3 separate regions of the Homo sapiens genome follow, and regions 1 and 3 are each linked to region 2. The links come from fine-mapping of genetic effects on gene expression. A gene starts in region 2. Each other region holds a variant in brackets. All regions are shown on one strand. Distances are from middle to middle. Region 1 holds the start of LINC01341 (long intergenic non-protein coding RNA 1341). Region 2 holds the start of SCCPDH (saccharopine dehydrogenase (putative)). Region 3 overlaps SCCPDH (saccharopine dehydrogenase (putative)).

Region 1 (8,180 bases), 62 kb before region 2:
CCTCCCCAATCTGCCAACCCTGGGGCCCCTGCCAGCTTCCCAGCAGCCCTCTCCCCTCCCTGGTGGCCACAGCCTTTCAGACAGGACAGGCAGATGGGGATTGGCCGCTCCCCATTTGGAAAGCCCCCTCAGTGACCTCCCTCGGCCTCCTGTCCCTGGCCACACTGCCCTTCTTTTGGTTGTTCAGCAGCCGTCTCTGCCTCACCAAGACTTACCGCCCAGGAGGGCTTAGCTTGGGCATCACGCCTCGGAAAAGGCCGTCTGTAGCCTGTAGTCTGAGTTAGGTCCTGGTGTCCCCTGCAGCCATTGCTGCACTCACCCAGACCAGCCTGGAAAGCGTGGAGGGAGGGCCTGGCTCTGGGTGGTCCCCACAGAACCCCAGGGCCAAGGGAGTCACGCCCTCAATGTGTGCAATGAAGGTGAACGCAGGAGCCAGAGGCCACCTCCCTCCTGTCTGCGTCTCTCCCTGTCTGGGGGATTCCTGAGGGGAGGACATTCCTCAGATCCTTCTCACTGGGGAGGTTCACCTCACCCTCCTTGGCCTCGAACCCCTCCTGAGCCCACCGTCTCCTCCCCAGGACCGCCTGATTTTGGGATCCAACAGCACCTACCTGTACGTGGGGTTTCCTTCGGAGTGGGGCAGTGAGGACCTGAGCAGGTTCGATTACGACTTCTTCCAGCTGGAGAGGGCGGCTGCGGAGGGAGCGAGTGCAGACAAACTCGGTGAGCCCCCTCCTGACTGCTGGCCTCTCCCGTGTGCTGATCTGAGAGCAGCGATTTCACACTGTGTCTCTCTGCTTTCCTTAAGAACATCATCATTTGTTTTGTCAAAGTCTGATGTTTACAAAATTGAATTATGATTTCCATATAGAGTGACTACATGGTAAACATTCAACTCGTTAAACGTTCCCTGAGGAATGAGGGTAAAGATGGTTCAAAGGGGTAGAGAAGAGAGTGGGGTACCCAGCAAATGAGAGAAGAATGCTGAGCTGGAGAAGCCAGTTAGTGGCCTCCGGCCGCCCCCAGGGGCCTGCTGGGCCTGCAGAAGCAGTGGCCCAACTCCAGAGGGGCCGGCTGGGGCCTGCTGTGGGCTGCAAATGCGCGGCCCGGAAGAACGTGCAGCCCGAGGCCTCTGAGACAGAATCTCCCCTCCTCGCCCGAACGCAGCCCCCAGCAGTAGCCCACGCGGGCCGCCCGCCGCTGCCGGTCTCTGCTGGGGCTTTCGCGCGCCTTCCCCGCCCCTCTCCCCGCCCCGATTCACCGCGCTCCGGGCGGCTCCCCCAGAATCCTGGCCAGGCCGGAGCCCGCTGCGATCTGAGTGACCTGCGGGCTTCCCGGAGGGGCCCCACGCTTTGCTCGGCACCGGGACTCTGCCTGAACTCGCAGTAATGAAACCGCTGGTGGAAAGTGGGCAGATCCACCTGTGTGTGTGCAAGAGCTCCTCCCTGTCCCCACACCACAGTGTTTCTCTCAGAATTTCAGCAAAATAAATCGATTAGAAATTCACCTCCTTGCTCTTCTTCTGCTGAAGTTTTCGACTTTTAAAAATGAACAAGGCCGGGCGCGGTGGCTCACGCCTGTAATCCCAGCCCTTTGAGAGGCCGAGGCGGGCAGATCACGAGGTCAGGAGATCGAGACCATCCTGGCTAACACAGTGAAACCCCGTCTCTACTAAAAATACAAAAAAGTAGCCGGATGTGATGGCACACACCTGTAGTCCCAGCTACTCAGGAGGCTGAGGCAGGAGAATTGCCTGAACCTGGGAGGAGGAGGTTGCAGTGAGCTGAGATCGTGCCACAGCACTCCAGCCTGGGTGACAGAGCGAGACTCCATTTCAAAACAAAACAAAACAAAACAAAACAACGAACCAGTAAGACTCTGTCATACCAGGCCCGGAAAAGCCATCTGTTCATTGACCTGTCCTCAGAGGTTGACCGTGCCACTGCCCCTGTGGCCCTGGTGGCGCCATGAAGCTGAACCAGCCCCAGACCCTGGCTCGGACCCTAGGGAAGACTTGGGTCCCCAACAAGGCAGCAGCTGTGTGAGCAGTTTGGGGTCAGACCTCAGGGCCAAGGGCACTGTGTGCACCCACAGGCCAGGGGTCTCTAAGAGTTGAGATTTCCTGATTAGAGGCAGTACCAGCCTGGGTTTGGGAGGGAGATTGATCCTCCCATAATCTCCACGAGCCCCTCCTTCAAGCCACCCCAAGTATAAGAGAAGCACAGGTCACTTGCTGTGCCAGCAGCAGCTTGAGGATACCTCCAGGCCTTCCGTCTAGCCAGCCATGTTTCACCTCGCCCCACCCTCCTCCAGTCTGGAGCCACCTTGGGTCAAGGACCCTGAGACCAAGAATGGGAACTGGGGGCAGAGGACCTCCTGCCTGCGGCCAGGATTCATGGGTCGAGATAAGCAACCACGTAAGGAGAAGCCAGGCAGTGTCATTTTCCCTTGTTTGTTTTTAAATTACATGCTTGTAATTTTAAAATGTAGATATTTGATGAACAGCTGAACAAATGAATGAACAAATAAGCATACACATTTATTCATGGCGGCTGGGCGTGGTGTCTCATGCCTGTAATCCTAGCACTTTGAGAGGCCAAGGCAGGAGGATCGCTTGAACCTGGGAGTTCAAGACCAGCCTGGGAAACAAAGTGAGACCTCATCTCTACAAAATATTTTAAAAATTAGCCAGGCATGGTGGCTTGCACCCGTAGTCCCAGGTACTCAGCAGGCTGAGATGGGAGGATTGCTTGAGTCTGGGAGGTGGAGGCTGCAATGAGCAGAGATCATGCCACTGAACGCTAGCCTGGACGACAGAGCAAGACAGCTGTCTAAAAAAAAAAGAAAAAGGGCTTGGCATGGTGGCTCATGCCTGTACGCCTGTAATTCCAGCACTTTTGGAGGCCGAGGTGGGCAGATCACCTGAGGTCAGGAGTTCGAGACCAGCCTGGCCAACATAGTGAAACCCCATCTCTACTAAAAATACAAAAATTAGCCGGGTGTGGTAGTGCGCACCTGTAATCCCAGCTACTCAGGAGGCTGAGGCAGGAGAATTGCTTCAACTTGGGAGGCAGAGGTTGCAGCGAGCCGAGATGGCGCCACTGCACTCCAGCCTGGGCAACGAGAGTGAAACTCTATTTCAAAAAAAAAAAAAAAAAAAAATTCTTCATGGCGGAACAAGTGACTGACTTTCGCCTCCACTGTGATTGTTGCCAGGTGCTGCGGACGGTGGAGACGGCAAGGCGGGCCCCAGTGTCCTGGCTGCGTTCCAGGACTACATCAAACTGATGCCGCTGGTTCAGAAGCAAATCAAATGAGTGAAGAGCCAAAGAAGGTAAGTTAGCTGGAGCCAGGAGCTGGTGTGCCAGGTGCAGAAAGGACCTCAAGGCCTTGTGGGGCAGGGGTGCGTTCCCAGGGACTCTCAGGGAACTAGCCACAGAAGCCAGACTGCCCAGCCCAGGCCCGAGTACCATTCCTTTCACCAACAGCCTACCAGGGCCACCGGGATCCCAGACCAACTCTTGCTGGCCATGAGCAGGCCCTCCCAGATGGTCCTGGGGCCTCTCCGGGTCTAGGCACCCTGATGGCTGCTGTGCCACACAGACCACCTGGGCTGGGGACAGCTCCCTGGAGACGTGAGCTCCCATCGGCCGGAACCTTGTAAGAGATTTAATCAATTTGGTAGGGACTCCAAGTGTTAGTTCCAGGATATAATGGAGAAAATCTGGTGCTCTGTCTTTCCTCTTAGTGGGAAATCCAAGGGGCAAGAGTGGGACATCTTAGAGAGAGTCTTATTCATTCATCATTTAGGAAGCCCGAGGGTGGGAGAATGAAAAATAAATTGCAAAGGTGGTATGAGCTGTGAATGTAGGATTTTTTTTTTCTTTTTGACAGGGTCTCAATCTGCCGCCCAGGCTGGAATGCAGTGGTGCAATCATGGTTTACTGCAACCTCCACTTCCCGGGTTCAAGTGATCCTCCCACCTCTGCCTCCCAAGTAGCTGGGATTACAGGTGTGCACTTCCATGCCTGGCTAATTTTTGTATTTTTAGTAGAGATGGGGTTTTGCTATGTTGCCCAGGCTGGTCTTGAACTCCTGGGCTCAAGCGATCCACTCGCCTCAGCCTCCCAAAGTGCTGGGATTACAGGCATGAGGGACTGTGCCCAGCAGAATGTAC[A/G]ATTATTTAGTGAGAAGTGTTTCTTTTACCAGGGACTTAACATGGAATTGAAGGTGAAAAATTTGGCATCGTCAGATTCCAGGGGCTATGACCTACAGAAGGAGGTCTTGGTGAAGGTGACCCACCACGGGTCTCACGAGGTGAGGCCCCACAGGGATGGGACTCAGGAGGTGAGGATCCATGGGGATGGGACTCAGGAGGTGAGGATCCACGGGGACGGGACTCAGGAGGTGAAGATCCATGGGGACGGGACTCAGGAGGTGAGGATCCACGGGGAAGGGACTCAGGAGGTGAAGATCCATGGGGACGGGACTCAGGAGGTGAAGATCCATGGGGAAGGGACTCAGGAGGTGAGGATCCACGGGGAAGGGACTCAGGAGGTGAAGATCCATGGGGACGGGACTCAGGAGGTGAGGCCGCACGGGGACGGGACTCAGGAGGTGAGGATCCACGGGGACGGGACCCAGGAGGTGAGGATCCATGGGGACACAGGTTATCTTTACCAGCTGCAGCCTCCGGAGACCCAGTCAAGGGCAAAACGTATTCCAAGTATGAGCTGGAGCTCTGGGGAACAGGGGGATCCACTCTCCCGTTCCCTGTCCTGGGTCCTCCCTCCCAGCACCAGCCATTCCCTGTCCTGCACCCTCCCTCACAGCACCAGCTCCTGGGAGCGTTCCTAAGCTAGCCTGCACTGAGCATCTGTTCATGCTGAGTATGACTCAAAGGCTTTTGTACCAGAAGGGAGCCTGGGAGTTTATACAAGTGGTAGTGGTGTCTGTCCATGCACGTAGGTGCGTGTGTGTGTGTGCAAGTGTGTGTTTGTGTGTACATGTGCCCGTGAGAACACAGACTGCCTTTCTGCAGCAATGAGAAAAGCAATCCTCCTAGGGACTCCAGAAAAGGCTGTTTCACCAACTCCACTGGCTGGACCTTACTATCAGGAAATTCCATTTTAGAAACTTAAGACCCTGTTTCCTCTCCCTCTGCCTCCAAAGGAGGAAACAGAAATGCAGGCCCATCTTGCAGCACCCCTTGTGCATATCAGGCCCCTGGAGGAGCAGCCCTCAGGCTTCCGGCTCCAGCACACTCACCCGTTGCCTTTCCAGACTGCGCCTCCGGCCCCCACCCCGGGCTGCTCCCTCCCTGCTCAGCAATTGAAGCTTCTCTGAGTTTCACTTTTCTGCTCATCTGCTCATCGCCCGAAAATTGCCAAAATGTTCTGGGCCGAGACCGATTTTTGTAAAGCTTTTAAAAATTGTGAAATGAGCTAAGACTATAAGCATGTGTGTGCGTCCCATGTGGTCAGCACCTGTGCACTGCATCCACCACCCCGTCCACGGGGTTTCGCCCTCCAGGTGCTGGGGCTGCCAAGATGCTGCCCCAGGGAGGAAACCAAGCAAGGATCCTCCTGGAGCCCAGCTCCTCAGAGACCGGCCCCTTTCCTGCAGGTCTGTGTGATGCAGACAGGGTCTCCCGTGAGACCCTCACCCTAGGGAGTCAGCATGGACTTCTCTGCCATGTTCCGTGAGGCCTTGGAGGGGACCCCTCAGTGTGTTTGTACTTTGCATTTTTCTTTTTTTTCCAGCAAAGGCCACTGGGGCAAAGTGGCTCTGGTGCCCCGATATTCCACGTGCCTCTTTCGGGCCAGGCTTTCCCCTAGAATTTGGCTTGGCAGTTTCCTGTCTTGTCAGACCTTGTTTTAAGAAAATTTGTAATTCTAAAAAACCATTTTCCATGCTATTCTATTTTGTATTATAGTCCAAGGTAGTTCGAAAAATAGCCTTTTAAACTGTTGCTAACAGAAGGGTTATTGAGTGCACACGAAGACACTCATGAGCACCTGCCTGTCATTACCAGAAACAGAACAGGAGACGGTGTTCTCACACTTATCATTGGGAGAATTGTATGGGAGGGCTGAGGGCCTGGATTCATGCCCTCATTTTCCTTCAGCCCAGCATCCTGTCACTGGGACAGGTAGCTGTCTGATAGGACTGCTTCTGCTTAAACATACCAGGTTCTCTTTTAAGGGGGTCGTACAGTTTGTTTTTTTTTTTTTCTATTTTTTTTCTCATGAAGATATGAATCTTACCAATCTGTCTTCCTCAAGACTGTCCATTTTTACATTAAAACAGTAAGATTAGGCCCAGCACGGTAGTTCGCATCTGTAATCCCAGGATTTGGGGAGGCCGAGGTGGGTGGATGGCTTGAGCTCAGGAGTTTGAGACCAGCTTGGGCAACATGGTGAAACCCCGTCTCTACAAAAAATACAAAATTAGCTGAGTATGGTGGTGAGCACCTGTAGTCCCTGCTACTGGGGAGGCTGAGGTAGGAGAATCACCTGAGCCTGAGGAGGTCGAGGCTACAGTGAGCCGTGATCACACCACTATTCTCCAGCCTGGGCGACAGACAGAGACCCTGTCTCAAAAAAACAAGTAAGCTTAGTGCCAGTGACCTGTCTTCAGATGAAGCCCTGCTTTCCTCAGGAGGCTTCTGGGAGGCTGCAGCCTGAGAGTCTCCTGTGACATGGTATGTAGATGGAGGCTTCTGGAAGGCTGTAGTCTGAGGGTCTCTTGTGACATGGTGTGTAGATGGAGGCTTCTGGAAGGCTGCGGTCTGAGGGTCTCCTGTGACATGGTATGTAGATGGAGGCTTCTGGAAGGCTGTAGTGTGAGGGTCTCTTGTGACACGGTGTGTAGATGGAGGCTTCTGGAAGGCTGTGGTCTGGGGGTCTCTTGTGACACGGTGTGTAGATGGAGGCTTCTGGAAGGCTGTGGTCTGGGGGTCTCTTGTGACACGGTGTGTAGATGGAGGCTTCTGGAAGGCTGTGGTCTGGGGGTCTCTTGTGACACGGTGTGTAGATGGAGGCTTCTGGAAGGCTGTGGTCTGGGGGTCTCTTGTGACACGGTGTGTAGATGGAGGCTTCTGGAAGGCTGTGGTCTGGGGGTCTCTTGTGACACGGTGTGTAGATGGAGGCTTCTGGAAGGCTGTGGTCTGGGGGTCTCTTGTGACACGGTGTGTAGATGGAGGCTTCTGGAAGGCTGTGGCCTGGGGGTCTCTCTTGTGACACGGTGTGTAGATGGAGGCTTCTGGAAGGCTGTGGTCTGGGGGTCTCTTGTGACAGGGTGTGTAGATGGAGACGTCTGGAAGGCTGTGGTCTGGGGGTCTCTTGTGACAGGGTGTGTAGATGTTGGCAGTGCATGTGAGACAGGCACTTCCGAAGACTAGAAGAGCAGCAGAGACAGCTGTGGGTCCCAGCTAGAAACACGAATGCTACTTTGCGGTTGATCTTGTATGTGTTTACCTATCCTCCCTGCTGACCGTGTGGACGGTGACTGCTGCTGCAGCTCTCAGGGAGGACGCAGTGTTGTGCAGCTGTTGGGAGTCACATATCATAGACAAGCTCACGAGCAAACCAGGGCTGTGTGAGGGTTGGGGAGGGTTTTTTGACCTGGAAATGCTGCCAGCTTGCGGTTACCTTTCAGCAGTATTCACCCAACAGCTGTTGGCTCTGGTGAGCAGCACATCCTGCCAGGGAACTCTGAGCCAGGCCTGCAGAGCCCACCCGGGAGCAGGCGGGAGTCAGCATGGGCTCGCAGCCTATCCTGGAGCCTCGCCGACCTGTTTCCTCCTCAGGCCAAGGATGACATGCAATTTTAACTGACACCAGGCCTGTGGTCTGATATCCAGAGGTAATGAGGCAGTGAATTCATTTATTATTTAGATTCCCATGATCTTAGTTCCCTAAAGTCTTTAAGAAAAAAACAGAATAAGCCGGTGCAGGCGCACGCCTGCAGTCCAGCTACTCAGAGGCTGAAGCAGGAGGCCCGCCTGAGCCCAGGAGTTCAAGGCTGCAGTGAGCTAAGATTGAGCCACTGCATTCCAGCCTGGGTGACACAGCAAGATCACATGTCTTAAAAAGAAAAGAAAAACACAAACAGAAAAACCACAATGACTAGAACTCCTGTTGTTCCCTGCTGCCCCCATATTTTTTTTTTTTTTGAGA
Region 2 (8,180 bases):
TACTGAGGAGAAAAAGGCAAGGGAGATAGATGAGGGCGTCCATTATAGAGTGCAGCAGTGGACCTCATGGATGGAATCTAAGCTAGTTAAGAATGAGATGAATCTAAATCAACAACACTTCTATTTAATAGCAATTCAAAAACCCTTTTGCTCTCAATTAAAAATTATTAATATTTTAGATATTTAATTTTTAAACATCTTGCCAACTGTGATGGCTTCTTCAGATCACTAAATGTCACCAACATTCACCTTGTTACACAGGCCAAAAGTCTGATGGCCTGTGACTTGATGACTTTTTCACAGTACAACAGCAAAAGCCGTTCTCCTTTGAAAATATACTCTGGACCTAACTACTTCTCAGCACCACTACGACCCCAGGGCTTGTGCTTGCACCATTCCATTGCTCATCCTTTGTTATCTACTTTTCCACTCAGAAGCCAAAGAACTTCCAATTTAAATCAGCTGAAGCCCTTCCTTTCAACCATTCAACGCCTCTTGGTCACACCTGGAAAAAAAATCCACATCCTGGCCATGGCCCGTAAGATCCCACATGACCCAGCTCCCGGGTTGCTCTCTGATCCACTCTCCACCTCTCTGCCATGCCCAGCCACACTGGCCTCTGTCACACTCTTCAGTCTTGCCAAGCACACTGGCATCTCAGGACCTTTGTGCCTGCTGTCCCTGGAAAAGTCTCTCCTCAAAAGGTTCATGCAATTTGCTCTCATTTCATTCAGATCTTGGCTCAAATGTCAATTCCTCACAGAAACCTTCCCTGACCATCCATCTAAAAACACCAATATGCCAGGACCTTTTCTCCTTTCTTGGCTTCACTTTTCTTCAAAGCACTTTTCATTACCTCCTATTACAATCCTATTTTTCTGTCTTCCCCAAGAACGTAATGTCCACGAGGGATTTTCTGTTTTGTTCACCATTGTGTCCCAGGTGCCTACAATAGTGCATTTCACATGTGGTAAGCATCAATAAATATTTATTCAATAAATGAGTCGTTTTTTAGTCTTCTTTTTGTGCATTTAAAAAATATATTTACCCAGTAGTACAAGAATATAATTTATAAATAAAAAATATACTAGGGAGACACACTCAAACATTTTTTACCGAAGGGGTATATAGTAAAAAGGAAAGAAAATTCTGACAATCACAGATGTAACCAATCAACAAGCCAGCACACATGCCCTAAGGAGAACGTCATGGAGAGCCTGTCACTCACTCTCTCAGGAGACTTTGGTCATCTCCAGCTGCTCCTCGCAAGAAGAAAAAACTCCCCATATGGGGTTAAGGCCTTCAACCAACAATTCTGTCCTCTGTCCTTATGTTCCTCTGGAATATTTTGCTAGAAATGAATGGATTGTTTGTTCTGATACAAAGAAGGGTTGATTACTTACTGGTCCTACGCAATTGAGGACAACTGTTGCCTGTTTAGCCATTTCATCAAGCGAGGCTGGATTAGCAATATCACAGATGATGATTCCAACTTCAGATGACAGTGTTGGTCTTCCTAAAATAAGAAACAAATGAAGGAAAGTAAATCCCAGTAGAGGATTATATCTTCCTTATCTTCTTTTTACAGTAATCAGTGACAGCAAATTACTAAATACACTGATATGCTGAAAGCTAGCTCTCCTGCTTAGACAAAAGATAAAACTGTTTTTAATCAGGTAATACAAAAGGAAAAAATTATGAGGAAAACTGAGTTAACACTAAGAGTTACTAAAAAACTGACCTTTTAAAAAAAATCGAATCAAAGCGTTGTGTAAATAACAACCCTGTGTAACATGACAATTTCACAATCAAGTTTAAATGCTGAGCAGATAACTATCCAGACTTCCTCTCCAACAAGAAATTTATGTCATAAAATAGTTTCTTGGCCAGGGGCAGTGGCTCAGCACTTTGGAAGGTCAAGGTGCAAGGATCTCTTGACCTCAGGAGTTCCAGACCAGCTTGGGCAACATAGCAAGACCTTGTCTCTACTAAAAAAAAAAAAAAAATTATCTGACATGGTGGCATAGCCTGTAGTACCAGCTACTCAGGAGGCTGAGGCGGTAGAATCACTTAGACACAGAGGTCAAGGCTGCAGTGAGCTGTGATCACGCCACTGTACTCCAGCCTGGGTGGCAGAATGAGAACTTGTCTTTAAAAAAATAAAGTTTCTCATCAACCACTAAACAATTACTATGATCCAATTGTAGGTGATGGAGAGTTTCGGACTGACTGTTAACATCAAAACCATCAGGGCTGGGTGCAGTGGCTCACGCCTGTAATCCCAGCACTTTGGAAAGCCGAGAAGGGTGGATCACGAGGTCAGCAGATCGAGACCATCCTCACTAACACGGTGAAACCCCGTCTCTACTAAAAAAATTAGCAGGGCGTGGTGGCGGGCGCCTCTAGTCCCAGCTACTCAGGAGGCTGAGGCAGGAGAATGGCAAACAAACAAACAAAAAACAAAAAATTAGAACTCTGAGGTGAAAAGCACACGCTATATAAACACACACAGGCTCATAAGAAAATAATTGGAATTAACTGGCTCAACTAAGTGATGCAGGTTTCAATAGGTGAAGGTATATCCCCCCACAATGAAACTTGATTTGGGCATTATATATGATAAGTGACTAGGCTGTACCGGTACGATCTTGCTGAGCCGAAAAAAGAAATGGAAGCATATATTTTCATAGTAAAATTACTTCTGTTGGAAAAATAACGACCAAAAAGCTCTTTGGTCAGAATTACGTGTTGGTAGTGTCAGCACCAAAAGCTGTAGGAGAGTCCAGCCTACGTGGTGTCTTCTGTACATAACCACGAACAAAAGCACTCCGAGCAGGGCATTGTATGAAAGTAGATTAAACAGAAAGAATGTAGTATTTCCAGAACTCTAATGGGTGTCTGTATAAGGGAAATCTACGGGAGTTAATAGCCAAATTTAAAGGCTACGGAGTCGTAAGTCAGATGTCTCCCCAGCCATGAAGGCAGCAGGATCCGTGTGTCTGTCTCCTCTCTGTCCCATCCTGCACCCCAGACTCGGGACAGGTCTTAGCATGGACAACGTCACTCAATAAATATATGCTCCTTCAATGCTTAGAGAATCAATAAATATATGCTACCTGAATGCTTAGATTATCAATAAATATATGCTACCTGAATGCTTAGATTATCAATAAATACATGCTACCTGAATGCTTAGAGAATACGTAAGCGTCTAAACCAGAAATACACACTTTTTATTCTCTGAAGAGGAAGACTGCTGGAGTATTCTTACACACAAAACAAGAAACTAAAACAGAATAGCCACAAAGACACTGTCAGTACAACTCGTAAGCTTGCTCTCCCGTCCTCAAAACACGAGGCAAAGGGAGACTCCGATCTCCAAGAGACCAAAGCCCTCCTCTCCTCTCCGACCAAACATCTAGAAACCCGCAGATTCAACAGGTGCCCCCGCTGCGGGGCAGGATGAAGCAGAGAGAGGGACAACTCAAGTTCTTGACCATTTCGCCAGGGGAGCTCCCCAAACTGAGGCAGAAATGCAAAAAGCGGGAAAGAGGAGAAGGAAAGAAAAAAAAATGTGTGTGTATATTATACACGCACGCGCACACACACATATAGTTAAGGAGGTGGGACAAAGCTATGGCAGTATTTGAAACATCTCTCCCTCTCCTCTTCTTGTCCTCACGCAGGGCTCGGGGACACGTAGGGCGCATCCCTGCGGGAGAAACGCTCGTTTGGGGCGATGCGGGGTCCCCGGCCCAGCCGCCCGCGCAGCCCCGTCCCGCCCCGCCGCTGTACCCAGCTTCAGGGCCGCCTTCTCCAGCACCCGCTGCAGCTTCTCCCGGGAGCGGCCCGCCACGGCCCAGGGCAGGCGGGAGCTCCGCTCCGGGTCCACCTGCTCCCGGGCCACCTCCTCGGTCACGAACTGGCCGGTGAAGCCAGACGCGCCGAACACCACCAGGTGGAAAGGCCTCTGCTCGGTCGCCATGACGAGTCCACAGCGAGCCCAGGCCCCGGGGCGGGTGGAGTCCACGGCGCCTGCGCCTCAGGCAGCGACCCCAGTACCCGGCGCAGCAACGGCCGCCGTCGCCGCAGCCAGCGCGCCGGGCTCCCTTCACCCCGCGCGCGCCGCCGCGCCAGGGCCGCGCCCACGCCCACGCCGCCTCGCGCGGGAGCCGCGGGTGAGCGGCTTGCTTGGGAGGCTTCCGACGGGAGGTTTCCTAGGGCGGTGGCCCTGGGGGCGAGTCCGCTTCCAAGCCTGGCAGGCGCGGACGGCGGCCCCTAATTCCGTGCGGCGGTTTGTTCTGCAGGGCTCTGGCCGCCCCGGGCAGCGCATCTTCTAGCCCTGCTGGAAGCTGGAGGCGGCAGCCGGTTGTCCTTGTTGCACGTGGGGGTGGAGCAAAGAGTGCGAGAAAATCTGCGGATGGCCTCGGGGATGGCCCACCCCGAGAACCCTTGAGCTTGCTTGCTTTCTTCCTTTCTTTCTTCCCTTTTTTCCCTTTCTTTTCTCTTTTCTGTTTTTGAGATGGAGTCTCACTCTGTCGCCCAGGCTGCAGCGCAGTGGCGCGATCTCGATTTACTGCAACCTTCGCCTCCTGGGTTCAAGCGATTCTGCCTCAGCCTCCCGAGTAGCTGGGATTACAGGGGAGCGCCCCCACGCCCTGCTAATTTTTGTGTTTTTAGTAGAGATGGGTTTTCACCTTGTTGGCCAGGCTGGTCTCGAACTCCTGACCTCAGGTGATCCACCCACCTCGGCCTCCCAAAGGGTCGGGATTACACGCATGAGCCACTGCACCCAGCCCATTCCTGATTTTTAAAAACTCTCATTAAAATAGGAATAAATGAATGCTTTTAAAAATTTTGAAATATATGTCTTGCAAAAAAGGTACAGCCAATAACAAATATGTACCCTCAACACAGCTTAAGAAAAATATTCCAGATAGCGAGGCTTCCAGGTATTCATTCCTGAACACATTTCCTTTTGCGTCCCCAAGACGGCCACTTGCCTGAATTTAGTGTTTATTATTCCTATTCCTATCTTTCTGCTTGTTATATATGTATGTATTTATAAATATTATAGTACCGTTTTGCATATTTTGAATATTTTGTAAATGTCAATCCTGCAGCTTTCTTATTTGGTCATGATGTCGTGAACTTATTCCCAAATGATTCAGAATAAAAAAAAATGTCTGTGATACGTGTGTGGAGAGAGGGAGAGAGAGAGAAATACACCAAATTCTACAATGCTTTTGTACAATGTTGTATAGTGCTTTTGTGCAATATAATACAAAGAATGCTACAATAAAATTCTTGTACCTTTCTCCTAAAGCACCTGTGCGAAAGTGTATTGAATATGTGTCAGGAATGAAAATGGTTGGTGCTAGAATATCCATATTTGAGTTATCTCACTGCTCTTTAAAGCACATGCACTAATTTTCGCTCTCAGCGGGATACAAGAATCCTCTTGCTTTACGTGCTTGTCAGCACTTGGTATTCTCAGACTTCATGCTTGTCCATCTGGTGGGTGTAAAGTAGTAAGCATTCAAGTATTTATTAAACACTTAACTATATACTGGGCACTAGGAATAAAGTACTGGGGATATGGCAACAAATAAAGCCCCTGCCCTCAAGAAGTTTACATTCTAGTGGAGTAAACAGTCACTAAAAAATAATCTTACAGAGCCAGGTACAGTGGCATGCACTTTTAGTCCCAGCTACTTGGGAGGCTGAGGCAGGAGGATTGCTTGAACCTAGGAGTTGGAGGTTATAGTGAGCTACACTCCAGCCTGGGTGACAAAGTGAGATATTGTCTCTAAAAAGAAAATAAAAACAAAAGAAAACAAAAAACCCTAAAAAAACAGAATATATATATATATATATATATATATATATATATATATATATATATTTTGTTTTTTGGGAAGCATGCTTGCTATGGTTTGGATGTTTGGCCCCCCCAAATCACATGTTGAAATGTAATCCCCAGCATTGGAGGTGGGGCCTGGTGGGAGATGTTTGGGTCATGGGGGTGGATCCCTCATGAATGGCTTGGTGCCATCCCCAGGATAATGAGTATGTTCTCTCTGCATAAGTTCATACAAGAGCTGGTAGTTGAAAGAGCACTCATCCTTCTCTCTCTTGGTCTCTCTCTCACCATGTGATACATTGGCTCCATTTCACCTTCTGCCACGATTGGAAGCTTCCTGAGGCCTCACCAGAAGCAGATGCTGGCACTACACTTGATGTACTTCCTGCAGAACCATGAGCCAAAATATAAACTTTTTTCTTTATAAATTAACCAGCCTCAGGCATTCCTTTAAAGCAACGCAAAAATGGACTAACATAATGGTCATTGCAGCATTGCTTTGTAATAACAAAAAGTAGAAATAACTGAAATGTCCTTTATCAGAGGAATTATTAAATAAATTATGGTGTCCTATTCATTCAATAGGAACTGTGCAGCTATAAAGAATGAAGAATGACTATTCAGGTGGTTCTAGGTAAAAAACACACAACAACAACAAAAACAAAAGAATGAAGTAGGCTGGGCACAGTGGCTCACGCCTGTAATCCCAGCAGTTTGGGAAGCCAAGGCAGGAGGATCACTTGAGTCCAGAAGTTTGAGACCAGCCTAGGCAATGTAGCAAGACCCCATTTCTTAAAAAAAAAAAAAAAAAAAAAAAAAATTTTTTTTTTTAATTAGCTGGGTGTGGTGATGTGCATCTGTAGTCCTAGCTACCTGGGAGGCTGAGGTGGGAAGATTGCTTGAGCCCAGGAGTTCGAGGTTACAGTAAATCATGATCACACTACTGCACTGCAGCCTGGGCAACAGAGCAAGGCTATGTTTCTAAAAAAAAAAAAACAAAACAAAACTGTGTATAGTGACACGGAAAATCTTCCAAATTTCCTAACATTACAAGAGTATATTTAAGACAAAACAATGTATGTATATGCACACAAAATGTTAAGAATACATGATAAATCTTTTTTTTATTATACTTTAAGTTTTAGGGTACATGTGCACAACGTGCAGGTTAGTTACATATGTATACATGTGCCATGTTGGTGTGCTGCACCCATTAACTCATCATTTAACATTAGGTATATCTCCTAATGCTATCCCTCCCCCTTCCTCCCACCCCACAACAGGCCCCGGTGTATGATGTTCCCCTTCCTGTGTCCATGTGTTCTCATTGTTCAATTCCCACCTATGAGTGAGAACACGTGGTGTTTGGTTTTTTGTCCTTGTGATAGTTTGCTGAGAATGATGGTTTCCAGTTTCATCCGTGTCCCTACAAAGCACATGAACTCATCATCTTTTTATGGCTGCACAGTATTCCATGGTGTATATATGCCACATTTTCTTAATCCAGTCTAACATTGTTGGACATTTGGCTTGGTTCCAAGAATTGCTATTGTGAATAGTATTGGGGAACCTGCCCCGATATTCACGTAGGTTCTTTTCTATTTTCCCTAAGTGTCGGCCAGCTTGAGAAATAAAGGGACAGAGTACAAAAGAGAGAAATTTTAAAGCCAGGCGTCTGGGGGAGACATCACATGTCAGTAGGTTCTGTGATGCCCCACAAGCCGCAAAAACAAGCAAGTTTTTATTAGGGATTTTCAAAAGGGGAGGGAGTGTGTGAATAGGTGTGGGTCACAGACATCAAGTACTTTACAAGGTAATAGAACATCACAAGGCAAATGGAGGCAGGGCGAGATCACAGGACCACAGGACCGAGGCAAAATTAAAATTGCTAATGAAGTTTCGGGCACCACTGTCATTGATAACATCTTATCAGGAGACAGGGTTTTGAGATCAACTGGTCTGACCAAAATTTATTAGGCGGGAATTTCCTCTTCCTAATAAGCCTTGGAGCCCTATGGGAGACTAGGGTCTATTTCATCCCCTGCAGTCTCAACCATAAAAGACAGGTGCACCTGGGGGGGGGCTGTTTATAGGCCTATACCTCCAGGTGCGTATTCTCTTTCCCAGGGATGTTCCTTGCTGAGAAAAAGAATTCAGTGTTATTTCTCCCATTTGCTTTTGAAAGAAGAGAAATATGGCTCTGTTCTGCCCGGCTCACCGGCACTCAGAATTTAAGGTTATCTCTCTTATTCCCTGAACAATTGCTGTTATCCTGTTGTTTTTTCAAGGTGTCCACATTTCATATTGCTCAAACACA
Region 3 (8,180 bases), 31 kb before region 2:
TTTCCACAAGCAAAAGAGTTTCTAGCAACTGAAACCCTAAACAGGGATTCTGGGGTGCTTATGACAGCAGGATTTCCCGTATTGAATTTGCTGCTATTGTGTTACATTAAAAAGATATTCAGCAGCCAGATCTGAATCAAAAGACAAGGTTATAAAATACAAAATGTTCTACCCTAATGATTCTGTGTATTTCCAGAGGCTGAAACATGTATTACTTAGCTCTTCCTTTTTCTGCCTTATAAACAAAAATATCCCACACTGAATAGAAAGAGGAACTGTAACACACACTTTATTGATAAATAAACCATATATACTTACTGGTGATTCCTCTAAATTTTCATACAAGTAACGTTGAGTCCTCCTTACAACAGACACATCAGATCCCATAAAAGGAATGGAATAACCTTTGAGTTCCCGACAATAAGAAATTGGCCACCTGCAAGACAGACCTATGAATATTTTGCATTTCCTGCAATTACAACTTTGGCTGGTAAATGTCTGAATAAGCAAATCAGTGGCAGGGCATGGTGGCTCATGCCTGTAATCCCAGCACTTTGGGAGGCCGAGGCAGGAGGATCACTTAAGGCCAGGACTTTGAGACCAACTTGGGCAACAAAGAGAGACTCTGTCTCAAAAGAAAAAAAAAACCAGAACGCTCCTTTCAACAGCCCAACCCTAAATTCTTACCTCTAAACTTCTCACATATGTCCTGCAGTATAAAACTAAACTAAAATAAATTTTTAAAAAAGAAAAAAAGTTCTCACATAAAATTTAGTTGACAGTTAATTTCTATATTGATAGTGAAAAGTCATCATAAGATTCACTTATTTCCTAGGATTCACATGTTTTATTACACACGAAGTACTTAAGCTTATGGTAATGGATTAATTATGTCTTATTTATCTTAAGCTTATGGTAATGGATTAATTATATCTTATTTATCTCAAGCATATGGTAATGGATTAATTATATCTTATTTATCTGTGAAAACAATTCTGAACTTACTACAAATTAGTCTCCAAGCTTTTCTTAGTAACATACTTTATTAATAGCCAACCCAACAACAATATACTTAGACTAGATATATAAAAAATGGATTTTAAGTTAATTTACCTTCTCTTCAATTTTGGACCAATGAGCGGGACAGGTTTCAGATTTGATACATTTCTTAGTTTTCTCAAATTACTCTGATCTCCAAAACCATAAATTGCTGACTTCCAGGTACCATCATGAATGCTCAACCCCTAATAAAATATTTCAAGAGTTAAAGAAACATGAAAGGGTAGTTACTAAAATGTAAAGCCAAGTAACTTATCATTGTTACAAACAATATTTCACTTATATTTGGACAAGACATAATCCCTGATTTAATAATCTTGAGGAGAATTTTCATGACCAGCTAGGGAGCAGTCACATTCATTAGCTTGATCATACCCAATATTTACACCGAGAAGCCCTTTCTTCTCCCCTCCTATCATTCTTTATATTCTGTAATAAGTTATTTAGTTTTACTTCATCAATTTTACTCAACTAATTGACCATATTCCTTCAAGATCAGCCACTCTAATCCTTTTTTTTCTGCCCCATATGATCTGCAGGAATAGCCACCCTAATCCTCTCTCGATCCTACACAAATTCCTCAACATTTCTGGATATGTCCGTGTGCACATTTATGCATACATACACTGTGTACTGTCCATCTCTCCATCCTGTTACACCTGGTTCCCCGTCTACCTCCAACACCTCTTACTCTAGCCCCAAGTTATAGATCTGTCTTCCTACTGAAGTCTTAGTAAAATAATTGTTTAAAACATTTAAAGTTCACTAATAATGATTTGTATTTTAATTGCTTTCCTCAATCCCTTGATTTCTTTTTGGTATCACAGCCAGTACAGAGTCCTTAGTATTTGCCTGATCTTACTCAGACTCTCATTTATTCACTGATTTTTCATCCTTTCATGAGACTTTGGGCTGTCAGTGCCTTCCATTCTACCAATACTCTTTACAGCTTCCCCAACCCTTACCTCTAGCGCCACCGAGAAACGAGTGGCTGAGACCCCAGGAGAGGACACGACCTCTGAATTTACTATCACAGCGCTGGCCCTTTTTTTTTTTTTTTTTTTTTGAGACAGAGTCTTGCTCTTGTCACCCAGACGGGAGTGCAATGGCACGATCTCAGCTCACTGCAACCTCTGCCTCCTAGGTTCAAGCAATTCTCCTGTCTCAACCTCCCGAGTAGCTGGGATTACAGGTGCCCACCACCATGCCTGGCTAATTTTTGTATTTTTAGTAAAGACGGGGTTTCACCATGTTGGCCAGGCTGGTCTCGAACTTCTGACCTCAGGCAAGCCGCCCGCCTTGGCCTCCCAAAGTGCTGGGATTGCAGGCATGAGCCACCGCGCCCGGCCTAGCACTGACCTTTCTTTCCCAACCTCTAGGTGGGCCTTTTAATTCTCTATTACAGGAATAAACTTCATTTATTATATTGATTGTACATAATTGTATTATGTCCTTCCTTCTATGTTGTTTACATTGTTTAGGTCAACAGAGTAATTCAGAAAGATTCAAAACTAATTCTGTCACAAGATTTTCAAAGAGGGATATGTGGGAGGCAGATATGAAGGTACCTTTCATTGTTAATAAACAAAATAAGAGAAACAATAAAACCATCCAAAGATTCAGGTTTTCCTATCTCAGCTTTGATGATACTGAAAAGCAGAGATACCAAATCTAACTTTCATTCTGGTACAGATTTATTTCTTCTGTTTTATTAAAACTACAACAGAACTAAAGTCTTAAAGGTTTGATTTGTTATCTACTCAATCTGAGCCTAGCCAAAAGGGCCTATGTGAATCTCTACAAATGTAAAGATTCCAAACACCAGGAGAAAACAGCTTTTTAAAAATCTAAACATATTTTCTTATACAACTAAGCCATTGAAAAGGAAAAAATTACATTCAATTTAAAAAACTATTTGCGTTTCACAGAAAAATATAGAGACGTACCTAATACAATTTTATTAAATTGTATATTCATGTATGTTATGAAGCCAACGTACATGTAAACATCCAGGTCAAGAACTACAGGTAACCAGCAACTAAGAAGGCCCTCCTTCCGTCCTGCCTTTACAGTAATCAAGAAAAATTCTTTTCTTTAGAGTTTAATCACCTAAGAATTCATCCCTAAACAGTACAATTAGTTTTGCCTGTTTCTAAGCTCTACAGAAATGCAATCAAGCAAGATTTATTACTGAGTGTTTGGCTTCTTATGCTCAAAATTGTGATGTCAGGATTTACCACGTGTTGTAAGTAACTCCTACATTGCAGCTAGCCTTTTGACTTTCTTAATCGTGTGTTTTGGGAAACATTCTCAATTTTAAAAGTACACAAACGTATCACTTTTTCATTACATTTAATGCCTCTTTGTCTTTTTGTAAAAGCCATTCCCAACCGTGAGGGCATCCACAATCCATCTAAACTTGATTTTGGTACGGGGTGCAAAAGTATGAATCCAATTCCATTTTTTCTCCAAGTAGATACTCAATTGTCCCAGCAGCATCTACCGAAAAGCCCCCTTGCTGTTCCTGCCAACTTGAAGCCCGGAGGCCTGCTGGGAGGAGGAATTCTAAATGACAAGTATGCCTGGAAAGCTGTGGTCCAAGGCCGTTTTTGCCGTCAGCAGGATCTCCAGAACCAAAGGGAGGACACAGCTCTTCTTAAAACTGAAGGTATTTATGGCTGACATAAAATGAGATTTGATTTGGGCAGGAAATGCGCTTATGTGTACAAAGAATAATACTGACTCC[T/C]GGCAGCAAACCAAACAAAACCAGAGTAAGGTGGAGAAAGGTAACGTGTGCCCACGGAAACAGTGGCACAATGTGTGCCTAATTCCAAAGCAGCCGTCCTGCTTAGGCCACTAGTCACGGCGGCTCTGTGATGCTGTACTCCTCAAGGATTTGAACTAATGAAAAGTAAATAAATACCAGTAAAAGTGGATTTGTAAAAAGAAAAGAAAAATGATAGGAAAAGCCCCTTTACCATATGTCAAGGGTTTATGCTGACTTAATAACAGGTCTTGATCTCCAAGAGTGTCTTTCTGCCTTATTCTCTTTCAAGAATATCTTGCCTGTTCTCAGCCCTTTGAGTTTCCACATACATTTTAGAAACAGCTTGTCCAGATGCACATCGAAACAAAACAAACAAAAAAACCTGTTTGTGATTTTGATGGGAATTGCATGAGATTATAAACAAATTTGAAGAAAATTAACTACAAAATGGATTCATATTTTAATCCATGAATACGCTGGATCCTTCAATTTATGTCTTCTTTATGGTCCCTCAATAAAGGTTTACAGTTTTCTTCAAAGAAATCTTGTACACTTTCTATTACTTACTCTTAGGTACTTGATTTATTTAATGCTATCATAAATGGTGTTTTTTACAAAAATAATCACCTTCTAACTGTAGCTGGCATACAGAAATACAGCTGATTTTTATATTAATTTCATATCCAGGAACAATAAAAACTATTGTGGAAATAAATGAAACAGAATAGAAAAAATCAACAAAACTAAAAGTTGGTTCTTTGAAGAGGTCAACAAAACTGACACATTTTGGCTAGACAGACCAAAAAAAAGAGAAAGAAAACCCAAACTACTAAAATCAGGAATAAAAGAGGGAACATTATTACCAACCTTATAGAAATAAAAAGGAGTATAAAGGAATACTATGAAAAGTGTATGCCAACAAATTAGATAACCTAGGTGAAACGGACACATGTCTGCTCAGTGGATCACGACCCTCTCACACGGACCCCCTTAGAGTTGTAAGCCCTTAAAAGGGACAGGAATTGCTCACTCGCGGAGCTCGACTGCTGGAGACGTGAGTCTTGCCGAAGCTCCCAGCCGAATAAAGCCCTTCCTTCTTTAACTTGGTGTCTGAGGGGTTTTGTCTGCAGCTTATCCTGCTACAGCCTAGTTGAAAAAATTTATGTTCAAGTGCTATTTCTTTTGCGGCACTGAAAATTTACTTCTAACAAATTTGGGGGCCCGCCCGGGATTCCCATTCTCCTTTGGTGAAGGGTCTGGTCCTCTCCCATGAGGAGGCATGCCCCGCTGCCTTGTTGCAGTGGCCTCAGGGGTAAGGAATCAAGACCCACCGGGTGTGACAAATAAACCCGGACTCTCAGCAATGCAGAAAGAAACTGGCTGGCGACCTGGGGAAAGGGATCATCACACACCGCAGCGACCAGGTAACTCTGTGCACAGACCAAGGTAAGAAACACCACAGGAGCAGCCAAGCGTTTCCTCGGTGGTCGGGATACTCTGCGGGGGTTGAAAGTGTGTGTGAATGCGAGGAGCCTCCAGCAGGTGGGGCTAAAGGATAGGAGACACATCTCTAAGATGAGAGATGGGGCCTAACCAGGACCCAATATGGGAAATACCCCAAGCAAGACAGGGACCAAGAAGGACAAAGATAACAAGGATATTCCCCTTGAGTGCCCCCTAGGTCTCATGTTAAAATACTAGAAGGATAATGAAAGGACCAAAAACAAGAAAAAGCAGCTGCTGTCCCAGACCCTTCTCCTATCCCCATTGTCCCCCTCCTTATAACCCTGCCTCCTGGGAACTGTCCCAGGAGCCCACTCACTACGAGCGTTAAGTCCTCTTCCCTAAAAGGACTTCAGCGTGAGATAGAGCAATGTAAAAAGGATTTTCAGAACTTCCCTTTCCTCTCTTCTCGGGGGAAGAAAGAGCCACGATCCGTCGAACTGCTATGGGAGTCTTGGAACGTGAACACCCTTCTGGCCAAAACGTTCCTACAGCGGATCAAAAATTTCCCGCCCAAAACCTCAGGTGGGACAATAACAATGCAGCCCCTCAAGAAAATATGCAGGACCTTAGGGAATTGATAATAAAGGGGATTAAAGAATCAGTATCCCAGAATCTTACCCAAACATTTTATGTACAGCAAGGGAAAGATGAAGCACCTATAAAATTTTTTAGATTAAAGGAACAAATGAGAAAATATGCTGGTCTAGGTCTCGAGGATCCTCTTGGGCAGGGAATGTTAAAACTGCATTTTGTCACTAACAGTTGGCCAGATATTAATAAGAAATTACAAAAGATAGAGAACTGGAAAGATAAACCTATAGAAGAGCTTCTAAGAGAAGCCCAAAAAGTGTATGTAAGAAGAGATGAAGAAAAAAGCAGAAAGCAAAAATTCTGCTGTCTACCATACAACAAAGTACCCAGGGGGCCAGAACCTGTAAAGAACCTAGACCCCCACTCTCCAGGCAACATAAAGAGGATGAAAGAGTAAAGCCAGGAGACTCAAAGGTAGAGAAAAAAAATCCTAGAGGAGAAAGACTGACAGGGAACAGAAGGAGTCAAGGAGAGAGAAAGAGAGAGAGAGAGAGTCAAAGAAAAAGAGAGAGAGAGAAAGAGACAGAGAGGCAAAGAGAGAGAAAGAGACAGAGAGGCGGAGAGAGAGAGAGACAGAGACACAGACGAAGAGGCAAAGGGAGAGAAAGAGGACAAAACAAATGTTTCGAATTAAAAATAGGTCACTTCAAAAGACAATGTCCCAAATGGGAAAAAGAACAAAAGTCATATATAAAAGCAAATCAGTTCATATTAAATTTCTGTTAATTCCAGAGGCAGGAACAAACTTATCAGAGAGAGATTTAGTACTAAAATTTGGCTTACGCCTCTATATTGATTAGGGAAAATTCCTCCCCTCCCTAAACTTGCTCCCCACCGCAGACAAAGAACACATTCATCCCAAGGTATGGTCAAAAGACAGGAATCGAGGAAAGTTACAGATTCCTCCGATTCGTGTTAAATTAAAAAAATTAAAAACCCCTGGGGAAGTAGAAAAGAGAAAGCAATACCCTATTCCTTTAAAAGTGAGGGTAAATTTAAAACCTACAATTGATAATTGAAGGTCTTCTCTGTGACGGGCTGCTTAAACCCTGTATGTCTCCCTATAACACTCAAATTCTGCCTGTAAAGAAGCCAGATGGGTCATACTGGTTAGTGCAAGAACTTAGAGCTATTAATCAGATAGCCAAACAGACTACCGTTTCTTAGCTGTACAACTGGCCTGCTTTGCAGCTAGGGAAAACCTAGGACACATGGAGTTAAATGCTAGGAGAAGCCAGACCTCATCTGCACTTCTGTCTAGGTCCTAGGCTCTACACCTAGCACATAATTAAAATCCCAAACTTACAAGGTTTTCAACAAAAGTAAAGTTTGCTAAAAGTTAAGTCTAACATGTATGATCCTAACTTCTAATCTTGTGGCCTCAGGCAGTCTAGTCCACAGACATGAAGGCAGTGTGCTTTGGAAAAGAATGGTTATCATCTTTGACATTAAAAAAAAAGGAGAATTAGCCGGGCGCGGTGGCTCAGGCCTGTAATCCCAGCACTTTGGGAGGCCGAGGCGGGTGAAGCATGAGGTCAGGAGATGAGACCATCCTGGCTAACACGGTGAAAGCCCGTCTCTACTAAAAAAATACAAAAAAAAAAAAATTAGCCGGGCGTGGTGGCGGGAGCCTGTAGCCCCAGCTACTCAGGAGGCTGAGGCAGGAGAATGGCATGAACCCGGGAGGCGAGCTTGCAGTGAGCTGAGACTGCGCCACTGCACTCCAGCCTGGGCGACAGAGCGAGACTCCATCTCAAAAAAAAAAAAAAAGGAGAATTTATGTAAAAAGAATCTTATATGGTAAATTCTTGTCCTAAAGTAAATTAACTGGTTGTTTAAAGAAAGGGATATTTACGACAAGTCAGAAAGTTAAGGCATGTCAAAGGTCGTCTGTGAAAGTCGTGAAAAATGTTATAAAAGGGAATTTATGCAAGAAATGTCATATAATTGAAAAGTAATTAGGCCTCCTGAATGTAAAACTATTGAAGAAACAGTTTATGTGCAAGGTGTGTAAGGAAAGTAAAATATACTTTTGGTAAAAGGATTATAAGGAGGCATAAGAATGTGGATTTTTACCTACATTAAAAGGTTAAAAATTGTTTTGAAGGTTTAAGCAAGGTTTGAAAAGTTAATTGTAAAGGAAATTCTGTGTGTAAACATATTGGTTAAAGTTTCTGTAAACTGGACATTAAAATAAAAGCACAACAGGTTTTTCTTAAAGTACTAACCTGTTCTTTAACAAAAATTATAAAGGGTT

What was found.
Region 1: its variant is fine-mapped to the expression of SCCPDH in whole blood (TOPMed, PIP above 0.99).
Region 3: its variant is fine-mapped to the expression of SCCPDH in lung (TOPMed, PIP 0.98).

The regions. Positions count from the first base shown.
Region 1 is chr1:246,782,130-246,790,309 of GRCh38, reverse strand. It overlaps LINC01341 (long intergenic non-protein coding RNA 1341), which reads right to left and starts at 693. Exons shown (of 2, transcript NR_015422.1): 1 at 612-693. It also overlaps the pseudogene KIF28P. RefSeq lists a silencer at 1,373-1,452 and an enhancer at 7,447-7,566. The variant A/G (reference allele first, on the strand shown) is at 4,178.
Region 2 is chr1:246,720,228-246,728,407 of GRCh38, reverse strand. SCCPDH (saccharopine dehydrogenase (putative)) reads right to left here and starts at 3,999. Exons shown (of 12, transcript NM_016002.3): 1 at 3,796-3,999; 2 at 1,404-1,516. The coding sequence starts at 3,985. RefSeq lists silencers at 3,646-3,855, 3,956-4,025, 4,066-4,195 and an enhancer at 4,406-4,565.
Region 3 is chr1:246,751,290-246,759,469 of GRCh38, reverse strand. SCCPDH (saccharopine dehydrogenase (putative)) reads right to left here. Exons shown (of 12, transcript NM_016002.3): 6 at 1,114-1,244; 7 at 319-436. It also overlaps the pseudogene RPL35AP6. Among named protein-coding and RNA genes, the nearest start is that of SCCPDH, 31 kb to the right of the region's middle. RefSeq lists a silencer at 5,298-5,448. The variant T/C (reference allele first, on the strand shown) is at 3,806.